Linked DNA regions of Homo sapiens: all the other regions are linked to region 3. The links come from fine-mapping of genetic effects on gene expression. A gene starts in region 3. Each other region holds a variant in brackets. All regions are shown on one strand. Distances are from middle to middle.

Region 1 (5,151 bases), 78 kb before region 3:
GACACATGGATGAGTGATGAATGCCTGGGTGGGTGATGAATGCATGGATGAATGTGGAATGCATGGATGGATGATGAATGCATGGGTGGGTGATGAACGCATGGGTGAGTGGTGAATGCGTGGGTGAGTGATGAATGCATGGGTGAGTGTGGAAAGCATGGGTGGGTGATGAATGTATGGGTGAGTGATGAATGCATGGGTGGGTGATGAATGCATGGGTGGGTGATGAATACATGGGTGAGTGATAAATGCATGGGTGGGTGATGAATGCATGGGTGGGTGATGAATGCATGGATGAATGTGGAATGCATGGGTGGATGATGAATGCATGGGTGGGTGATTAATGCATGGGTAGGTGATGAATGCATGGGTGAGTGATGAATGAATGGATGAGTGTGGAATGCATGGCTGAGTGATGAATGCATGGGTGGGGGATGAATGCATGGGTGGGTGATGAATGCATGGGTGAGTGATGAATGCATAGGTGAGTGAGGAATGCATGGGTGGATGATGAATGCATGGGTGGATGATGAATGCATGGATGAGTGTGGAATGCATGGGTGAGTGATAAATGCATGAGTCGGTGGATGAATGCATGGATGAATGATGAATGCATGAATGGATGGATACATGGATGGATGAAGTTGTACAAGCTCAAACCAGCTCAGATTGGAGGAAGCGTCTTACTTGAAGCCCCCTGTGACTATGTTGGGGCTTGTCTCCTACCATCTCACTGAAGGAGCCTATCTCCTAAGCTCTCTCCTAGACACCTGTATCCTTACTTTCCCCTCCCTTCCCAGCCTGAGCAGTGTCAGCGTCAGGAGCAAGATGATTGATGAAGTGTCAGCAGGGACACAACCAGCTGGGTGAGCAGGGGCTATATTGTAACCTGCAGCCAGGAGCTGCTCCCTTGAGATGGCCTTTGGGTACAACTCTATATGGCTTCCCAGCCTTTCTTCCAGCTGCAGGATCATCCTACCCCTGGGACTCCCTTATTGGTGTCCTCATTAGGCCAATCAATGCAAATTAAGCCCTGATTCACAGATAGTGGGGATATACAGTCACCACGACACATATGGCCTCTGTCATCCAGTTTCACTCAGTCTAGAGAAAGAAAGAGATGAATAAACAGACCCTTTTAGTATAAAAGCTATGATGAAAGTGACATTTGAGGTGAAAACACTACAATATAACAGCAGCAGAGAGAAAGGCACATCAGTCAAAGTCAAGGAAGGAAGGGACAGCTGGGCTCAGACTTGCAGGTAGACCAGGGCAAGGATGTTCAGGCAGAGGAAATGGGATAAACAAAGGCATGGTGGCCAAGAGAGCTAGATCCGTTCACTCAACACACAGGCAGGACTGCAACGGGTCTTGTGTATCCTGTGGATCTAATCTATCCTTAGGCGTCAGTCTGGGAAACATGAGTTCCGTCTTCTCCACTAATCTGGGAAGGAGGGTCAAGTGGTACCTCTGTCTCCACCTCCTCCAGGCCTACACAGTTTGTGACTGACATACTGAGCACCAGGTCTGCATCACCCACCTTATCACATGTGGGCACAGGATCTCTGCCGGGGGCAAGCGGTATGATGTGTCCTGGTCACGGTCTGGCTGGTGATTTGGTTACATCCAGACACGGAAGTCGACCTAGAATAACCTAAGACAAAGGCAGTCGTTTCTCTGGCTGACATTGTCAGAACGTTAAACAACCAAAAACAGCAACAAAGTGATGGGCCAAGCAGGCAAGTTTGGGAACAGCTTTAATGACTAATTTCTAATGAGAGTTTCAAAACACTAATTTTCCAGAACAGAGAATCAAGTTGTGCTCATTTATAACCCGTCATCTGCAATGAGACAGAGGATATTTCTTTCTGTGTTGTCAGTTAACTTTCTGAGCTGGACAGAATACAAACTAGAAGAGGTGGGCCGTAAATCAGCTCCTTTGGAACTGATAAATGGATATTGTACAAATCCTGCATTTGCATTGGCTCTGAGGACATAAATCAATTCTCATGATCTTACTTTGGAAAAAAATTTCCCTTTGAAGTCAGACTGAGCGATTTATGTAGCATTCTTTCCTGACTTTATTTTTCTCAGCTTTTTAATGATTGTCTTTTCACTTTCTGCACTTACACAACATTGTAAAGTGTTGCATTTTCATGTAGAGAAAACTGGACCTTGGTCTGAATCTTCCCACAAGGGATAATTTTATAACTTTTTTGCTCAGCCATTGAATAACAATTGCTTTTGGAAAGATTGTCATAATGTATCAGTTAGAAGGCACCTTAGAGACCATCATTTCACATGACCTCTGTTTTTTAGATGGGGAAACTGAGGCCCAAGAGTGACAGTCATGTGCTGCAGGTCACAGGCCAAGTTTGTGACAAGACCGGGGTGTCTGTTCGGGTTTTGGAGAAACAAGGACCCTAGATAGGGTCCATTCATTCATTCATTTATTTATTTATTTGTTCATTCTCCAGACAAATCGTTATCTTGGCCCCTTCTGCTGCAGCCATTGCCACTAAGAAGGCAGGCCCTGCAGGGGAGACTCTGCACGTCTTTTGTTTGTTGAGTATTTGCTAAACGGGCAAAAAATGGAAGAAAAATCAAAACATCACTGTTGGCTGGGCACGGTGGCTCACGCCTGTAATCCCGGCCCTTTGGGAGGCCGAGGCGGGCAGATCACGAGGTGAGGAGATCAAGACCATCCTGGCTAACACGGTGAAACCCCGTCTCTACTAAAAATACAAAAAAAAATTAGCCGAGCGTGGAGGCGGGCCCCTGTAGTCCCAGCTACTCGCGAGGCTGAGGCAGGGGAATGGCGTGAACCCGGGAGGCGGAGCTTGTAGTGAGCGGAGATGGCGCCACTGCGCTCCAGCCTGGGGCGACAGAGCAAGACTCTGTCTCAAAAAAAAAAAAAAATCACCGTCCTTTTTTGGCGTTCTGTCAGTCAAGAGTATTCTGAAGACTATCGAGGGAGGAGTGTTTGGTTTGTGCCTTGTTTTGTTCTGTTTTAGCAGCCCTGGAAATCATGGATACCTCCCTTCCTTGAAGTTATCTTTCCCATGTATAACAGCTGTATTGATTTATGAGATATAATTCACATACCGTACAATTCACCCATTTAAAATATACAAT[T/G]CAATGGTTTTTAGTGTAGTCACAGAGTTGTGCAACCATCACCGCCCTCGATTTTAGAACATTTTCAGCACCCTAAAGAGAAGCCCCATCCCCCTTAACCGTTAACGTGCTTCCTTCTCCCCACTGCTCTAGTGACCACTAACCAGCTTCCTGTCTCTGTGGGTTTGCCTAGTACGGACATTTCATCGGAATGAAATCAGCTAACATGTGATATCCTTAATGGTTTTGTAGCAGAAAGACATCTACGTGGGAAGGGACGCTGCTGAGTGTTTAGAGAACAGACACATTCATCATTTTATTGTATTTTCTCAACTTTAGAACAGTTTTCAAACATGTGGAAACGTTGGAAGAATTTTATAGCAAGCACCCTTTGCCCCATCACCGAGATTCTCCCAGCACATCTTCTTCTGCTTGCTTTATTTAGTGCACACCTATCCACCTGTTCCAGAGATCACCACTGCGGCAGTGGGTTCTCAAAGGAGAACCTTCCAACCTTCCCGCATTGAGAAAGAAAAATATCAGTTTTACTAAATGAAATATCAACATTGGAGATTTTATAAGCCGAGAATGTTAGTACATCAACATTAGAAGCCCTAAAAAATAAAATTGCATTCAAAGGCCAAAAAAGTCTTAGGCTTGCTAGCTCTCCAGGAAAGGCCTGTGTGTTCAGGACAGGAGGACTAAGGACCAAACAGGTTTGGGAATGACAGATCCCTTGACGGAACTGGCTGACAACTTTGCTCACCAGTCACAGCAGGGCAGCCCAGGGAGTGAACAGGGGCGTTGGCGGGGAGGGCAGCCATTCCCGCCCGCTGCTAATGGGCTCGCTTCTCAAAGGAGCTTTTGGGATTCAAGGGTTTAAGTATCAAGTTTGACTGATGGATTTGGAGGGAAGAATTGAAAACTGCCTGAGGGAAGGCGCTTTGCTTTTTCTTTTGTGAGGCAAAAGCTTTTGAAAACTGTGACTGTACAAAGAGCCACAGCTCCTCTGAGGAGTCTGTTATGCGGCAACACATACTCAGATGTGGACAGCAGTGAGCACGCTGCCTGGAAAGGGGGAACAGCACCGCGGGCAGGCTTCAGAGCCACACACCACGTCTCTGTCTCAGAGTCTATCCTCGACCACAGGGTTTAAGTCTTTGATGTGCACACTGGGCCCTGGAGAGAAGGTGCCTGTTCTCACGGGCTGACCCCACAAGCCTGTGAGCCGTAAGCGGTGTGATTCGCTAACAGTTGAATGGCACTGGCTATGTGTGTATGTGTATGTGTGTGCGTGTGTGTGTGTGTGTGTGTTGTGAAGATACATTTAGTTTGAGTCCCTATGAAACGAGGAGAAAAGGTCTTGACAAACAACAGTTCAATAGCTCCTGCCAATATGTGCAATGCAATTCTTTTTAGTGAGTGAATTAGGCTTGATAAGAACTACATTAAAGCTTCTGTTGGAAGAGGAATTCAAAATGCTCATCTTTGTAATTTACCCACTCAGTCACCAGTGTTTACCAAGTGCCAATGGAAGCCTGGAGAGAAGAGAAAGCAAAGATAAATAAGCGTGTCTCTCGGCCTTCAAAGCACTGTGCCCAGCAGGAAGGAAAGCACACAATTACGACATGCCGTTTTTATTGTATATATGTTTATATATTAGGTTGGGCCATGTGAAATTGCTGATGTGACGGGTTTTGACGAGAGAAATGGCAACTGTGTGGTTCAACCTAATATTTAGATAGTATTGTCTTAGCTCAGGCTGCCATAACCAAATACCACAGACTGGGCAGCTTGAATACAGACATGTATTACTCACAGTTCTGGAGGCTGGAAGTCCAAGATCATGGTTCTAGCTGGTTCAGTCTCTGGGGAGGGCTCTCTTTCTGGCTTGCAGACAGCCACCTTCTTGCTGTGTCCTCATGTAGCCTCATTTCCTTGGGGCATGTACCTGGAGGGTGGGGATTAGGGAGCATACAGGGTCTCCTTTTATAAGGATCCTCATCCTATCAGATCAGAGCTCCATCCTCATGACCT
Region 2 (5,133 bases), 60 kb before region 3:
GGTCCCCAACCCCTGGGCCACGGACGGCCCCAACCCCTGGGCCACAACATCAGATTGTTATTGGAGCACAAATCCTATTGTGAACTGCACACACAAGGGATCTAGGCGGCACACTCCTTATGAGAATCTAATGCCTGAACTGAGGAGGAACAGTTTCATCTCCAAGCCATCCCCCACCTGTTCATGGAAAAATTGTCTTCCACGAAACCAGTCCATGGTGCCAAAGAGGTTGGGGACTGCTGCCCTACCTCACAGAAAGCGAGTGACCCCAAGAAGCCTGCAGAAGGGACTTGTCAAACCTTTGATCTCTTTCACCTTCCCACCAATACTTGAGCCCCTGAGGGCAGAGGCTGGCAGCCCTTGGCTCTGGAAGTCCTTCCAGGTCAACAGCTGGCCCTGGCCACTTGCCTGGAAGCTTTCTTCCCTGCTCTGAGGGGGCCCTGCTGAGAGTGAGCCCGCCTTCCAGGGTGGCGCAGGCCCCAGTAACCCCCACTGCGCTGCCTGCGACTCGAATTCTGTTAATCAGTTTGCCTTGCGTCTCCCAACACCGACACCCAGAAGAGGCCGAGGCTTGGCAAGCACTCAGAGCAGCTTCTGTGAAGCTACATTACAGGCTGAAATGAGCTCAGCTTTTAATTTGATTTTTTTTTTCCTGTAACAAGCAAAGTTCACATTACAGATAAATTGCCCGGAAATTCCAATTTAATAAGGCGTATGCATTTTTCAGGCCTAGAAGCATTGAAAACATCTTGCACGCTAGTATTTTTACACTGAAAGGTTTATTAAAAAGACAGCTTTGAAAATGTCAGAAATTTACATAGCGCGCCTGGCCGATTGGTCAAAAAGCCTGATTGGACAAAAGCGCACGGAAGCCAGGAAGCGGGAGAGCAGGCTGTTCCGTGGTCTTGAGCTGTTCTCCCTCCACATCGGGAACGATGGCTCCACCGTTCATTGTCTCCACCCAGCTCTTAGTTCATGTTACATGGGTGCTCAGCAAATGAGTGTCCGTCTGTCCTCCTCTGTCTGCAGGTGTGTTTCTGAGTAGGAGCAGCAAGCTGTCCTTCCAGGGCATCTGTGGGGCAGGCATACCTCCTTGAGGTCTCCCATGGGAGGAGGCACCAAACAAAATAAGCAAACTGGCCAGGTGCGGTGGCTCATGCCTGTAATCCCAGCACTTTGGGAGGCCAAAGCAGGTGGATCGCTTGAGGTCAGGAGTTCGAGACCAGCCTGGCCAACTTGGTGAAACCCCGCTCTACTAAAAATAGAAAATTTAGCCAGGCATGGTGGCAGGTGCCTATAATTCCAGATATTTGGGAGGCTGAGGCAGGAGAATTATTTGAACCCAGGAGGCAGAGGTTGCAGTGGGCTGAGATCGCTGCCACTGCACTCCAGCCTGGGCGACAGAGCAAGACTCCGTCTCAAAAAATAAAATAAAATAAGCAAACAGAGGGGAGCAGAAAGAGTCCTGTGAAAACTCAGTTAAATAGCACAGCTCTGGATACTTGATTATTTTTTTAAGGAGGAAAAAGAGTGAGACATTGTCCTGTAAAATCACCCAAACCCTGGCTTTCCCTGGAAATGTGGCGCAGGCAGGCCTAACCGTGCTGAGTATTGTTTCTGAGGACTGCCTCCGAGTTCATGTCTCTAAGCATTTTATTGAATACAACTGCTTCTTTGACAAGAAACAAGCAAACATGCTAATTGTACAACAAAATTATGGCATCATGGGACAAAAAAGGAATGACAGAGGGAGCATCAAAGAGCATTGCTTGTACGCCAAACATGAAAGCCAAATTTATTTAATTCAGTTTTTATTTATCTTCTAAACTGAGTTGAGTAATCAGGCAATAGAATGCGGTTCATTTAAAACTTTCATTATTTCAAATATGTTGAACCACTACCAATCACTCCTGGATCAACAGGAAACTTGCTACCTGATGAGTTGCCTTTTTTCTTTTTTCTTTTTTTTTTTTTTTTTTTCTTTGCTTTTTCCATCCCCATGATTGTTCCAACAGAAGGAGAAAAGATGTAATAAACCTTTACCGGGCACCGTCTGCGTCCAGGCACTCTACTCGGCCCTGGGGGTGCAGAGCACACCACCCCAGCCTTAGGCATGAAAAACACTGTGTACCGAGAAGCCCAGCCCCTGGAATCCAGCATGCTGGTGCTACATTCCAGCTCTGTCTCTTATTAACTGGGCCGCTTTTGACAAGTTGCTAAGCCTCTCTGATTCTTGGTTACCTCAACCTTAAAACAAGGATGATACCCACTTCATCAGGTTGTCATGAGTCACAAAAATAAATGTAGTGATGCTCTTAAAGGGTTTAGCACCAAGCTGGGCCCAAGGAAGCATTCTGTGTGTCTATTGACCAACTTTTACCTATCCTGACACCAAGGAGCTTAGAGTTTAGTGGAGATGGCAGAGCCGTCAGGGCCCGTGTTAGGCTCCCAAAGGCATTTTTACCAGTGCATGTGCCTCGCACAGACCTAGTGAGGTGATTAATTCTACTGGGAAAGTCACACTGGATGAACGAGAGGAGACGTATGAGTGGGGTCTTGAAACAGTAAAAATTTGCCAGGTGGAAGCATAAATGACTCTTTAAATGAAAGCCTGGTGTTTTTAAAGCAGTTCATTCTCATGAGTAATTCATCGCTTCTGTTTTCACAAAATAGTGAAAGGATCATTGCAGCAGCAAGGGCATGTGGAAGCCCTGCGTTCGCCTCATCCGTTCTCCCCATCTGTCCCCTGTCACAGTTGCAGCATCAAAACATTGTTCCCCTAGGCTCTGCTGAGTCGGATGTTTCTGAAACATTCCAGGGGACCGTGTGAGTCACATCAGGGAGGACACACAGGGCCATGACCCCAGTGAGCCATTAACACACCCATAGCCTGACTCTGCAACGGCTCCCCCGAGGGCGCCCCGCACAAGACCAAGCCCTTTGTGTCAGCTTCAGTTTGCCCTCACAGCTACCCCAGAACACCACTGGGACTGTCCCCGAGTCACAGAGGAGGAAGTAGAAACACAGAGAAGTAGCTTGCCAGGCTCACTGTTAGAACCCAGGTCCTTTCCTCTCCAGAGTCCATGACTCTAACACTCATGTGATGCTGGCAATGTGAACGGCTGGGGGGAAGCAGCAGAGGGTGACAGCAGGCCTTGGCACCAGAGATCCAGCCTGCGAATCCCAACCATGCCCCATATTAGCCAATGATCTTGGCAAAGTTCACATA[T/A]CTCTAGGCCTCTCAGTTCCTCATCTGTAAAAGGGGAGGAATAATATTATCAACCTCCCAGGGCTGGTGTGAGGGCTGAAGGCATAGATGCTGGAAGCTCCTGGAGCGGTGTCCAGCCGGCGCAATGTAAGGCTCGATGCTGCTGCAGCTGTGTTACTATTAATATTAAAGGGAGGCTGCACCCCGAGGCTGTTTTAGGAAAGAACAGGCCAGACGCCTTCCAGGAAGCATCAGCAGGAGCCTCTCCTGGCGTCCTTCTGCAGTTTGGGGGTCTGGTACATCCACTTTGCAGGACAAAAACTTGATTTGATTCTCAGGTCAGTTCACATGACCCCAACACAAAAAGGATTGATACCAACCCAGACCGCCTCTGTGTGAATTAAATTTACAACAGCGCTGTATCAGAGCATCTGTCAATGCTGACTGGAAGCCCAAAGACCTCCAGATGATTGGTTCTGAGACTCCAGGAGAGGCTGGGAACACTCGGAGGGGCTCTGGATGGTGGCCAGGCGAGGGTGGTAGGTGAATTGCTGTCTGTCCTGGGTCGCCATGAGGCTTGTGGTGACTGCATAGATGCCCATTCCCTTTGTCAGCCAGCAATTTCTTATTCCCTGGCTCCCCTTCTCAACAACCCAAGTTGACCATCCCTTCTTCAGTGACCACAGCCTCCCCCAGGTAACAATCCCATTGCAGCCCCCAAGATGACCTTTAAGTCATGGACAAGGGCAGTTCTTCTTCTCCTTGGCCACACAGGAGGCATCCCTCTGGCTTCCACCTACATCTGAATAATCCCACCCACCACACTTCGATTCAACTTAACTCTATCCTCAGAGGCCACCTTTTCTCAGAATTCGTATCTTCTTCGAAGTAAGATCCTTCAGGTGAAACATACCTGCTGACCACCCACCCTGAGTCACTAAGTTAGCTGGGAAGCAGCAGTTTTGAGTGTGGGTTCAGGGTCGCAGCTCCAAGGTCAGACCACCTGGGCCCACGTCCTGACTCTACGATTTGCGTAGCTGTTGGTTTGTGCCTCAGAGTCCTCATCTGTAAGTGGGGATATTATACCTACTATAATAAATTAGTAATGCCACGGTAACAAAGTATTGCAAACATGGAGGCTAGAAATTTATTCTCCCACAGTTCTGGAGGACAGAAGTCCAAAATCAGTCTAACTGAGTCAAAACCAAGACGTTGGCAGGGCCACGTTCCATCTAGAGGTCTAGGGGAGGGTCCTTCCTGCCACTCCCCACTTCTGGTGGCTGCAGCATTCCTTGGTTTGTGGCCACATCACTCCAATCTCTGCCTCCACGGTCGTGTGGTCTTCTCCTTTTCTGTGTCTCAAATCTCCTCTGCCTCCCCCTGAGGACACTTCTGATTGCATTTAGCAAACCACAAACAACCCCAAGATAACTCAAAATAATCTCATCTCAAAGACCTTAACTCAGCTCTGCAAAGTCTTTGCTCTATGAAGTAACATTCCCAAGTTCCAGGATTAGGAGGTAGATATCTTTTTCCCGTGAAGACTCGGGGTTAACTTGCTCCAAGCCCTTCAGTTGGAGATTTTCAATCCTGTTGGTTAAATCAGGTTTTAAACATCCTTAGACCCAAATCTGGCCATACAAGGCAGAGAAAATCAACTTCATGCATCTTTACCAGTGTAAAGATTCCCATGTCACTTCATGGGGATGTACTTCAAAGATGGGTAGGAAATGGCAGCAAAGTGCCAACAGCATCTTTCTGGCTTAGGTCTGCAAGTGGCACATTATCCAAGCCACCCAATTCAAAGAAAGCTGAGTCATGCCCAGTTGAGTCTCCCTGATAGATAAGACTATTATTTCTTACTCTATGCATCTATATTGTTTAAATCTCAAAAGAGCAACCTCAAAACAAGTAACATTTTAAAA
Region 3 (5,151 bases):
GTGCTTCCTACGGGCCGGATACTTTACGTATCTATATAGATGTGTATATACATATTACCTTGTAGTTATATTTGTAATTTATGTGTAATACATAATTATATATCATATACATAATTTATGTAATAGACATTAGCACCATTCTATAGATGAAGAAACTGAGGTTCACACAGTTAAAACTATCTCACAGTAGGTCTCACGACTACTAAGTGATATGCATGGCCCCACCCTGGCACTTTTCTTGCTATATGCTAAGGCAGCACCACCCCATTTATCTCCAGGAACAAACTGTGTCATCACAAACAATGCATGAAAGTGCTGAGGACTAAGCAAGTTGTCAATGATGGGGGATGAAGCAGAGGAAACCCAAACTTGCAAATCTGGTCTATAAGAAAACTTTCCTTCCCCCTAGGCAGTCTGTCTCCAGGAAACTGCTAGTTTGGGTAAATAAATAGCAAACGGATGCCTTGGCAGCCAGTCATAGAGACGCTAATTTGGAAATTTGCCTCAAAAGAACATAAGAAACAGAAACCAATGCTTCAATCCGAAAGCAAGAGAACGTGAAATTGTCAGAACAACCACCGATCACACCATTCTCCCCGAGAAAAGCAATTTTCTAGGTTTTTGTTTGTTTGTTTGTTGTTGTTTGATTTTTTTACAAACAAGTCCTCAAAGAGACCTCCTTGTGCTTTGGTAATGCGAGGCAAAATATCCACTCATTCTAACCAGGGCACACCCTTGAGAGGGTAGCAACGCTGGATTTTTACATGGGAATCCAAGCCAAGAAGACTGGTACCAGGATGGTGGTGTTTCTAGATTAAATCTGCCGTTCTGTGTCTGTAACTAAGCCCTACCTTTGCTTGGATGATGACTGTCGTGCCCCAGCCCCTCCTCGTGCCAGCGGGACAGCATCCTCCTCCTGAGGCTTACTAGCACCTGAAGGATTGTTCTGTGAAAAACAGGGACCCAGCACCTGCTGACATCCCTCAGCATCCTCTCTGAGTTTATCCCCACGGAGAAGAAGCAAGTCGATGTTACCCTGATGCAGTCATAGTTCCTGTGCTTCCCCTTATCAAATTTTGTAACCATGTTGTTTCACAGCACACGCAATGTCTTCACCCTTTGGCTCCCTGCCTTCTTTCAAGGCAGGATTTTCTAAACTTTAATCCCAAGGGAATATCGTCCCTATTTAGCCGTCTCCCTGTCTCATCTCTCAGCACCTTCACTAACTCTGCCACACTGAAATGCCACCTGTACCATCAGCTACAACTCTAGTTTTAAACTACGTAATTTTACATTTATAATTTTGGCTTGAATTTATTTTAAAAGAAGCTGGTACATTGGCCGGGCATGGTAGCTCATACCTATCAACCCAGCATTTGGAGAGGCCAAGGCAGGTAGGTAGATGGTTTGAGCCCAAGAGTTCAAGACCAGCCTAGACAACATGGCGAAACTCCATCTCTACAAAAAATACAAAGATTAGACAAGCGTAATGGTGCATACCTGTCGCAGGAGGATTGCTGGAGTCTGAGAGGTTGAGGTTACAGGGAGCCATGACTGCGCCACTGCACTCCAGCCTGGGTGACAGAGTGAGACCCTGTCTCAAAAAAAAAAAAGAAAAAAGAAAAAGAAAACTCTACATTATAACAACATGAATGAAAAACCAGTATCACTTGGAATACAATAAAGCAGCAGTAAAAATAAATACAATGAAAACAAACAAAAAAGCATAATTACCTTTTAGCTGGATACTATGTCTACTTAAGGTCTGCGTATGAAACTCTCTGTATTAAAATGAGAGATAGATAAGGATTAGAGAGGTCTCAAAGACACAGTAATATCCACCTGAGACCCTCTGCTTGTCAGGATCACTCAAAGAGAAATGAAAATGGAATGAATGAATGTCAACCGTGTGAGTCAGGCTTTTGTATCACCTGTCCACACAGCACCTAGAACCATTTTAGTAGAAGCAAAACAAGCAAAGTTGCATGAACAGGAGGTAAGGAAGTGGATCAAGTAACTAAGACAATAAGTCCTTCCTTTCTAGAAGCTCCCCTATGAGCAGTAGCTCAACAAGGGCACACAGTCAGTGGAGGTTCACCCTGGTTGGACTGGTTTCCATTTTCTATTTGTTTTTTGTGCAGCGGGGGTGGGGCGAGGGGTTGGTCACTTTTATGTGCTGAGAAGGAGGAATCATTGGAAAAAAGAAAATGAATGCAGGAAGCAAGTTCCTGGAGTTGAGGAAAGAGAATGGGATCAGGGCCCAGGTCTCTCTGCCTTAGACAAACGCAGAGCCCTGTGCGCGAGGAAGAACACTGCTTCCTGAGACAGAAAGGATCGTTAGCTAGTGACACGGGGGTTAATGTAGGAACTTAGGAATGCACGCAGGACGGGAGTTAAGGGGTTTTGATGGACAGTCTCCATTTTCTCCACAAAATAGAATATAAGGTCATCCTCTGAGGGTGAAGGGGATAAAGTCCTGGATTTGGGGGGACCAGAAAGGTTTGGAATGGCTACTGAAGGGCCAGGGCTAGGGCAGCCCAGGTCACTAGAAGGAAGGGGCACCCTTCACTGACCCTGCTGTGGCACCGCCCATCAGGTGAAGGTTGCTCAGCAGCAGCATGAGGCAACCTGGGAGGAAAGCAAACCAGGGGAGCAGCTGCTGGGCCCCAGGGCTGGGCCTACAGAGCTGACGCAGGTGCAACTAGGCAAAGAACATTCCAGTTCCTCCAAGGCCCCGCTAGGATCATTCCATCGCTGCTCACACAAGGCAAACGCACAAAGCACCTCATTGCATGTGGTCACATGGACAGACCAACACCTTCCATAGTGTATTTTATTATTACTGTTTTTTGAGACAGAGTCACAATCTGTTGCCCAGGATGGAGTGCAGGGGATAGATCTCGGCTCACTGCAACCTCTGCCTCCCCAGGTCAAGCGATTCTCCTGGCTCAGCCTCCTGAATAGTTGGGATTACAGGTGCACGCCACCTAGCCCAGCTAATTTTTGTATTTTTAGTAGAGATGGGGTTTCGCCACACTGGCGAGGCTGGTCTTGAACTCCTGGTCTCAAGTGATCTGCCTGCCTCAGCCTCCCAAAGTGCTGGGATTACAGGCATGAGCCACCATGCCCAGCCACCTATCATAGTACAGATCCAAGAAAGGAGGCATGTCAAAAGAATGGCCCAGAGAACCAAAAAGCAATTATAAAAGTACCATAATAAGCGCACGTAAAACAAAACTGTCTTGAATGGAAAAAGGGAGTTACAACATGCAATTAATCTAGGAAGAGCTTTAAAAAAAAAATGCCAAGAGGAGGTAAGACAACTATGACACTTAAATAAAGGTTAAAAATGAGAGTTGTTCAAAACCGAAGTTTAAAGGTTAATTACTGGTGCCTTACACGTAATACATTAGTTTTGTTAATGGGACAATATTCAGTTAGGTTCGGTGTGTCAGCCCCACAAGGTGAGTATGTCAGCCATGAGTATAAATTAGTGAAGCTTCCGTGAAAAGCAGCCCTTTAACAGACCTTGGTCTCCACACAGAGAAAGCATACTGCCTGTCTGTTTAAGTGCAAAAAATAAAGGAACAAATAATGCCTCCACTAAAAGAGTATCAAGTTTGTTTGTTGTTCATGTAAAGCAAATTTCCAATTGGAATTTGAAAAAAAAAAACCACAAGTGTCTTACCAGAAAAGGAAAGAAAAACTCCAGATTCTCGTGCTAATTCATGTTCCTGAGTTGCCCACAGCCATAAGACAGGTTTGCTCAGAGATCCAGGGTGCAGGCACCCAGCTTTCTTTGCTGAGTGTGGGAGTCCCAGGGATTGGGGTCTAAAGTCAGAAGCCTGAGGGCTTTCTTCACCTTGGCTATTCACTAGTTTTTAAGGAGTTCTGAAGTTTTATGAAAAGTCTTTTACGATTAGCTGGGCATGGTGGTGCTCACCTGTAATCCCAGCTACTCAGGAGGCTGAGGCAGGAGAATCGCTTGAACCGGGGAGGCGGAGGTTGCAGTGAGTCGACATGGTGCCACTGCACTCCAGCCTAGGCAACACAGCAAGACTCCATCTCAAAAAAAAAAAAAAAAAAAAAAAAGTCTTTTAAGAAAACTGAGATACTGGCATCTAGTAGGTAGAAGTCAGAGATGCTGCCCAACGTCCTACAATATACAGGGTGCCCCCTCCACCACCAACAATAAAGAACGACTTGACTCAAATGCCAGTATTGCAGCTCTTGAGAAACTCTGCTCTAAGCTCAAAAAACTCAGAGAATTCTAGAATGGTGAGAAAAAAGGAGAAGATGCAGAGTCAGGAAGTCCTGCGTCTCTTACTTCCTTAATTTGATGACCTTGTTCCAGTTTCTTAACGCCTCTGCATCTGTTTTCTCAAAAATGTAAAATTATGATAATTATATCACAGGGTCTTCTGAGGATTAACTTAAAACACTGAGATATTTTTATTTCAAGTAGTCGGGTAAAGCACTAGCCAAATACCAGTTGACAACAGCCAATTACAAAAAAGTTGTGTATACTTACACAGAAAGGAAGATCTCTCTATAGGAAAGGATGAGGTGTGAAGGGTGAGGGGCAAAGGTGTGAGTGAGGGGGAAGGGGTGGTAAAGGGAGTTGAAGTCTCATGCCTCAAGGCCAACTGGATTCCGGGTTTGTTAGAGACACTGGTGGGTCTGGCAGAGGCGTTTGAACAAGAGCAACTCCATCTCGAATAGGAGCTGGGTAAACTGAGGCTGAGAACTACTGGGCTGCATTCCCAGACAGTTAAAGGATTCTAAGTCACAGGATGGGATAGGAGGTCAGCACAAGGTACAGGTCATAAAGACCTTGCTGATAAAACAGCTTGCGGTAAAGAAGCCGGCCAAAACCCACCAAAACCAAGATGGCAATAAGAGTGAACCCTGCTTGTCTTCATTGCTACACTCCCATTACCGCTATGACAGTTTACAAATGCCATGGCAACGTCAAGAAGTTACGCTATATAGTCTAAAAAGGGGAGGCATGAATCACCCACCCCTGGTTTAGCATATAATCAAGAAATAACTATAAAAATGAGCAACCAGCAGCCCTCAGGGCTCTGTCTATGGAGTAACCATTCTTTTATTCCTTCATTTTCTTAAACTTGCTTTCACTTTACAGACTCG
Region 4 (5,151 bases), 34 kb before region 3:
CAAATTAGCCAGTCTTGGGTATATCTTTATTAGCAGTATGAGGATAGACTAATACAGAAACATTATTCGTAATAGACAAAAAGTGGAAACAACTCCAATGTCCATCAGCTGGTGAGTAGATAAACAACATGGTCTATCCATACAATGGATTATTATTCAGCCATAAAAAAGAATGAAGTATTAATACACACTGCAACATGTACAACCCTCAAAAACATTATGCTAAGTGAAAGAATCCAGACCCAAAAAACTACCTACTATATGACTCCATTTATATTAAATCTTCAAAATAGGCGAATCTGTAGAGACAGAAAATTGATCAGTAGTTGCCAGGGGCTGGGAGTGGGCATGAAGAGTTAGTACAAATTGGCCCAAGGTTTATTTTTGGGGGTGATGAAATGTTCTAAAAGTAGGTAGTGGTGATGGTCGCACAACTCTGTAAATGTACTAAAAATTAATAGTCGCAAAAATAAAGAGTAAGAAAAAAGTAAAGTAGAATTAGAAAAAAATATTTTTAATCCCTGCATAATTCTGAGTTTAACATGTTCATGGTTATTGTAAAGAAAATTAAAAATAGATAAATGTATTATTTTAATGTTAATTACCTAGGGAAATAATCACCACTTACATTTTTATATATGTCTTTCTAATTTTTCTCTAATCATATGTAGATTTTTAAATTAGGATCACACTATGTTTTTAGTTATGTCTATTAATGACAAGATATAAAGCACTTATATATATAGCTACTGAACAACAGAACCTGTGAAAAAAAAATCTCAGTGTTTTTTAGCTAAGTGGAAATCCTGTTTGGTCAAGGTTTTTCATGAAATAAAATCCCTGAAATTTAAATAGACAAAAAAACACACACACAAATTGTAATCGCAATAGGTTTGTTAACCAATGCACACAGCAAATCAATATGCCATGACACCAGGTTGCAGCAGAGAAACAGGTTTAATCATAGTGTTAATGGAAAGGGGTCATGATCCAGACCCCAAGAGAGGGTTCTTGGATCTCATGCAAGAAAGAATTCAGGGCTAGTCCACAGAGTAAAGTGAAAGCAAGTTTATTAGGAAAGTAAAGGAATAAAAGAATGGCTACGACATCGAGCAGCCCCAAGGGCTGCTGGTTGCCCATGTTTATAGTTTTTTCTTGATGATATGCTAAACAAAGGGTGAATTATTCATGTCTCCCCTTTTTAGACCATATAGGGTAACTTCCTGATGTTGCCATGGCATTTGTAAACTGTCATGGTGCTGGTTGGAGTGTAGCAATGAGGATGACCAGAGGTCACTCTCATCGCCATCTTGGTCTTGGTGGGTTTTAGCCGTCTTCTTTATTGCAACCTGTTTTATCAGCAAGGTCTTTATAACCTATATCTTGTGCTGACCTCCTATCTCATCCTGTGACTTAGAATGCCTTAACCGTCTGGGAATGCAGCCCAGTAGGTCTCATCCTCATTTTACCCAGCTCCTATTCAAGATGGAGTTGCTCTGGTTCAAACACCTTGACCACAGGGTCACAGAACGAGAAGATGGGAGGGAACCTCAAAGCCATTTCCCCAAGGAAGTTGAGGCTTGGGTTTTTGAGGGCTTTGGAGTGGGCAGAAGTGTGGAGATCAAGAGTACAGGGTGAAGTCATAGGAAGGGGAGAGGAAGCAGCTGTGTTCTCATGCTGATCCTGTTCCCCTGTGGGAGACTTCCAACTGGTGGCTGGAATTCTGGGGAGGTGTGTCTGAAAAACATCTTAAGTGTCTATAGGAACAATGGGGATGCAAATCAATTCTTAAACAGTCTTCTGGCCTTAATGTCAGAGATCCTATCTAGGGGAACGGTGGGGAAGCAAATGTCAGGATCTAGTGCTACTGTAACTGAGGAACTGGTTAGCCACTCACTGCAGCAGAGTCCAATTAACAAGATCCAGGCCTGGTACAAGAAAAGTGAATTTATTTTTGAAGCTAGCTTGGAAAGACACAAAGTGTCCTGCTTTAAGTGTGCTGCTTCATCTTTGGAGCAAAAAGCAGACATGTTTATAAGGTTAAAGGGGAAG[T/A]GAGCAAGGGCAGGAAGTCCCCCTGCTAGCCTGGTGTCTTATCTACCAAACAGCTGAGTTGGCATACAGTTGAGTTGGTGCCTTCCTGGGCAGAAATAAGTTGTAAAAGTGGCCAAGTGGGCGTGTTTTCACCATGTCCTCCTGAGGCCACCCCAGAAGTGGGAGTTCCGTGGAGATGTGCTTTGATCTGCAAATTGACTGTCAATTCTGGAGAAGAGATCACTGGGGCACGTAGATGACCTTGCCTTGTAGGGAATGTGTGGTGAGGGGGAGGTGAGAGGTTATTTTGCATTTCAAAAAGGGCTAGGTAGGAAGCAGGCTGAAAGGGGAAAGGAGAAGAGAAGAGAAAAAAGTAATTAAACCACCTCAGAAAAATCAGGGTACTTGGTTACGGTACATGACCTACTGCAACAAGGAACTGGGCCAGGGTGCAGCCTGATTAACGCTGAATTATAACTGTATTTGTACCCAGAACCTGGCATGCAATTCCCGTCAACCCTGTGGGGATGGTTTCAAAACCTGACCCTGTTTCTCATTGCATCCACACCCACAGCGTCAAAGCAATGCCAGGAGAACCACGCGTGGCTCATGTTTCTTGGAGGAGTCCTGGTTCAGTTCTACAGGCTTCCCACACAAAGCAATATACTGTTGGCCATGTAGGTAAGAAAAGCACAGGAAACTGTTTTTTACCCTTTCTACCAGTGTTTAGTACCAACCACAAGCACCAAAATACTCAAACTTCGAGCTCTGTGGCTCTGGCTCTTATGGACGGGGAAGTGCTTTACAATTGCCAGGCATTCCATTCACTTTATAGAATAGCCAGAAAGCTCCAGGGATGGGGATGCCCTGCCAGGGGGCCACAGCTCTTAAACAGGTGACATGCTTGTGACTGGAAAGAGGTCCCGATCCAGACTCCAAGAGAGAGTTCTTAGATCTCACGCAAGAAAGAATTCAGTGCGAGTCCATTAAGTGAAAGCAAGTATATTAGGAATGTAAAGGAATAAAAGAATGGCTACTCCCCGTAGACAGAGCAGCCCCAAAGGCTGCTGGTTGCCCATTTTTGAGGTTATTTATTGATGATATGCTAAACAAGGGGTGGATTATTCATGCCTCCCCTTTTTAGATCATAGAGAGTAACCTCCTGATGTTGCCATGGCATTTGTAAACTGTCATGGTGCTGGTGGGAGTGCAGTAGTGAGGACCACGAGAGGTCACCCTTGTCACCATGTTGATTTTGGTGGGTTTTGGCCAGCTTCTGTACTGCAACCTGTTTTATCAGAAAGGTCTTTATGTCCTGTATCTTATGCTGACCTCCTATCTCATCCTGTGACTTAGAATGCCTTAACCACCTGGGAAGGCAGCCCAGTAGATCTCTGCCTCATTTTACCCAGCACCTATTCAAGATGGAGTTGCTCTGATTTCAATGCCTCTGACACACTAATGTTAGAGCACCTTGGACATTTTCCTTAATCTGAGTGTCTAGTTTTCTTTTCTAGAAAATGAGAAAAAACTAGAATGTAGACCCCCATGTGCTCAAAGCAACAGCCTGCCTGGTTTGCTTGGACTTTTCCTAGACTGTATGATAACAGGTGCTCGATTCCTCTACGTAAATCTTCACCTTTTATTAATCATATTACCCTGCTTCTCTTAGAAAACGCACAGTTCTGCCCTCCCTACACCAAGATCACAAAAGGCTAAGTGTAAGTCATGAGCCAACCAGACCAAGAGTAACCCAGGCAGGCCAGGTGGCCAACTTGGCCATCTCATAGGCAGTTATCACTGCTCAACTTGAAGAAATACAAGGTTAATTATTGGAGTTTGAAATCCAGCAGTGGAATCCATGTGGTCCTATCGTGGTCATATAATGTGCTGAGGCTCTTACAAGTTGTCAGTGCTGAGTGGGAACGACAAAGCCAGAAACAAGGGCAAGCAGAGGTTGAATGCCAGGAAGACCGTGGCAGGGTGCCAAGTCCATGAAGCAAAAGCACCGCCATGGTCTAAAAGGCATAGTCCTCTAGAGCAACAGAGCCAGTAACTCAGATCCAAAGGAAAGAAAATGATAACCCTTTCCCCCTCAAGACTTGCCATTGTATGGCAGCAGGAGGGCTGCTTGCAAAATAAATAACCCACCAACATTTGTAGGTTGGAGATCTCTCAGTCAAGAGTGACAGGCTGTCACTGAAAATGGGTCGGAAGGAAAACTGTCATTCCTACTAAGCAATTTTAAATAGGCTTTGTTTCCAGATATCTGTGCCTACAAGTCCTCATTTCCTCATTTGGAAATGGGATTTGATATGGTTGTATTAGGAGGTAAAATTAAAAATATCTCCTTACATCCCATTCACACTGCTGCATGATGGAATTGCCAACCTTGTAACCAAAACACATGTCTTTCTAATAAGAAGTCAATGACACAAGAGAAAAGAGATTCCTGCAGCTAAGGTTTGCTCCTGGTATTTTCCCCATGATATCACCCAACACAATGTACACTCTGTGGGTGGAGAAGGATGGGGGGTGACTTTTTAGCTTGTATACTTATTTGAGAACCTTAAATGAGATGCCTATTAAACTATCCATGTATACAAATAGACTCAATATTAAGAAAAGAAGTAGTATAAGACTGAAAGACATGCTTAAGAGAAAGGAGGGAGCCATACTTCAGGAATGGAGAAATGAAGAAAAATCTATACTGGCTAAAGTCAGGTTAGCTAGGAGGGAACATATGAGGAAGGCCCAAGTCTTATGCTGCTAGAAGCCAGGGCAGAGGCAGTAGGCTGGAAAGGACCAGTGGTCATCTTGGAAATATGTGCTCCACTTGAAGCCATTTGGATAAAAAATAAGAATTCTTAGAACACTGGACATCCCAGAAACACGATAAATTAGCAGACCAAATGCCAGTCTGCAACTGCTGGTTAAAAAGAAAAATCCAATTACTTATAACACTGAATATAGGTCAGCAGAAACTCCCGGCATCAAAGAAACTCTGACCATAAAGACTTAGTGTATATTTTTACAAAACACTTCACAGGGCCTTGTGGATCAATCATGGATTCAATTTTGTTCTACAAATTAAAATCAAGCCATGTTTAAAGCAATCTC

What was found.
Region 1: its variant is fine-mapped to the expression of CDH13-AS2 in whole blood (TOPMed, PIP above 0.99).
Region 2: its variant is fine-mapped to the expression of CDH13-AS2 in whole blood (INTERVAL, PIP 0.93).
Region 4: its variant is fine-mapped to the expression of CDH13-AS2 in whole blood (TOPMed, PIP above 0.99).

The regions. Positions count from the first base shown.
Region 1 is chr16:83,723,935-83,729,085 of GRCh38, forward strand. The region is part of intron 10 of CDH13 (cadherin 13); the gene reads left to right. It overlaps CEDORA (CDH13 antisense oligodendrocyte and neuron associated lncRNA), which reads right to left. Exons shown (of 4, transcript NR_188499.1): 2 at 4,934-5,065; 3 at 1,541-1,654. Among named protein-coding and RNA genes, the nearest start is that of CEDORA, 46 kb to the right of the region's middle. RefSeq lists an enhancer at 4,004-4,504. The variant T/G (reference allele first, on the strand shown) is at 3,136.
Region 2 is chr16:83,741,788-83,746,920 of GRCh38, forward strand. All of the region lies in intron 10 of CDH13 (cadherin 13), which reads left to right. All of the region lies in intron 1 of CEDORA (CDH13 antisense oligodendrocyte and neuron associated lncRNA), which reads right to left. Among named protein-coding and RNA genes, the nearest start is that of CEDORA, 29 kb to the right of the region's middle. The variant T/A (reference allele first, on the strand shown) is at 3,230.
Region 3 is chr16:83,801,935-83,807,085 of GRCh38, forward strand. CDH13-AS2 (CDH13 antisense RNA 2) reads right to left here and starts at 2,042. Exons shown (of 3, transcript NR_120308.1): 1 at 1,735-2,042; 2 at 1,501-1,594. RefSeq lists a silencer at 299-458.
Region 4 is chr16:83,767,503-83,772,653 of GRCh38, forward strand. All of the region lies in intron 11 of CDH13 (cadherin 13), which reads left to right. All of the region lies in intron 1 of CEDORA (CDH13 antisense oligodendrocyte and neuron associated lncRNA), which reads right to left. Among named protein-coding and RNA genes, the nearest start is that of CEDORA, 2.9 kb to the right of the region's middle. RefSeq lists an enhancer at 1,971-2,110. The variant T/A (reference allele first, on the strand shown) is at 2,053.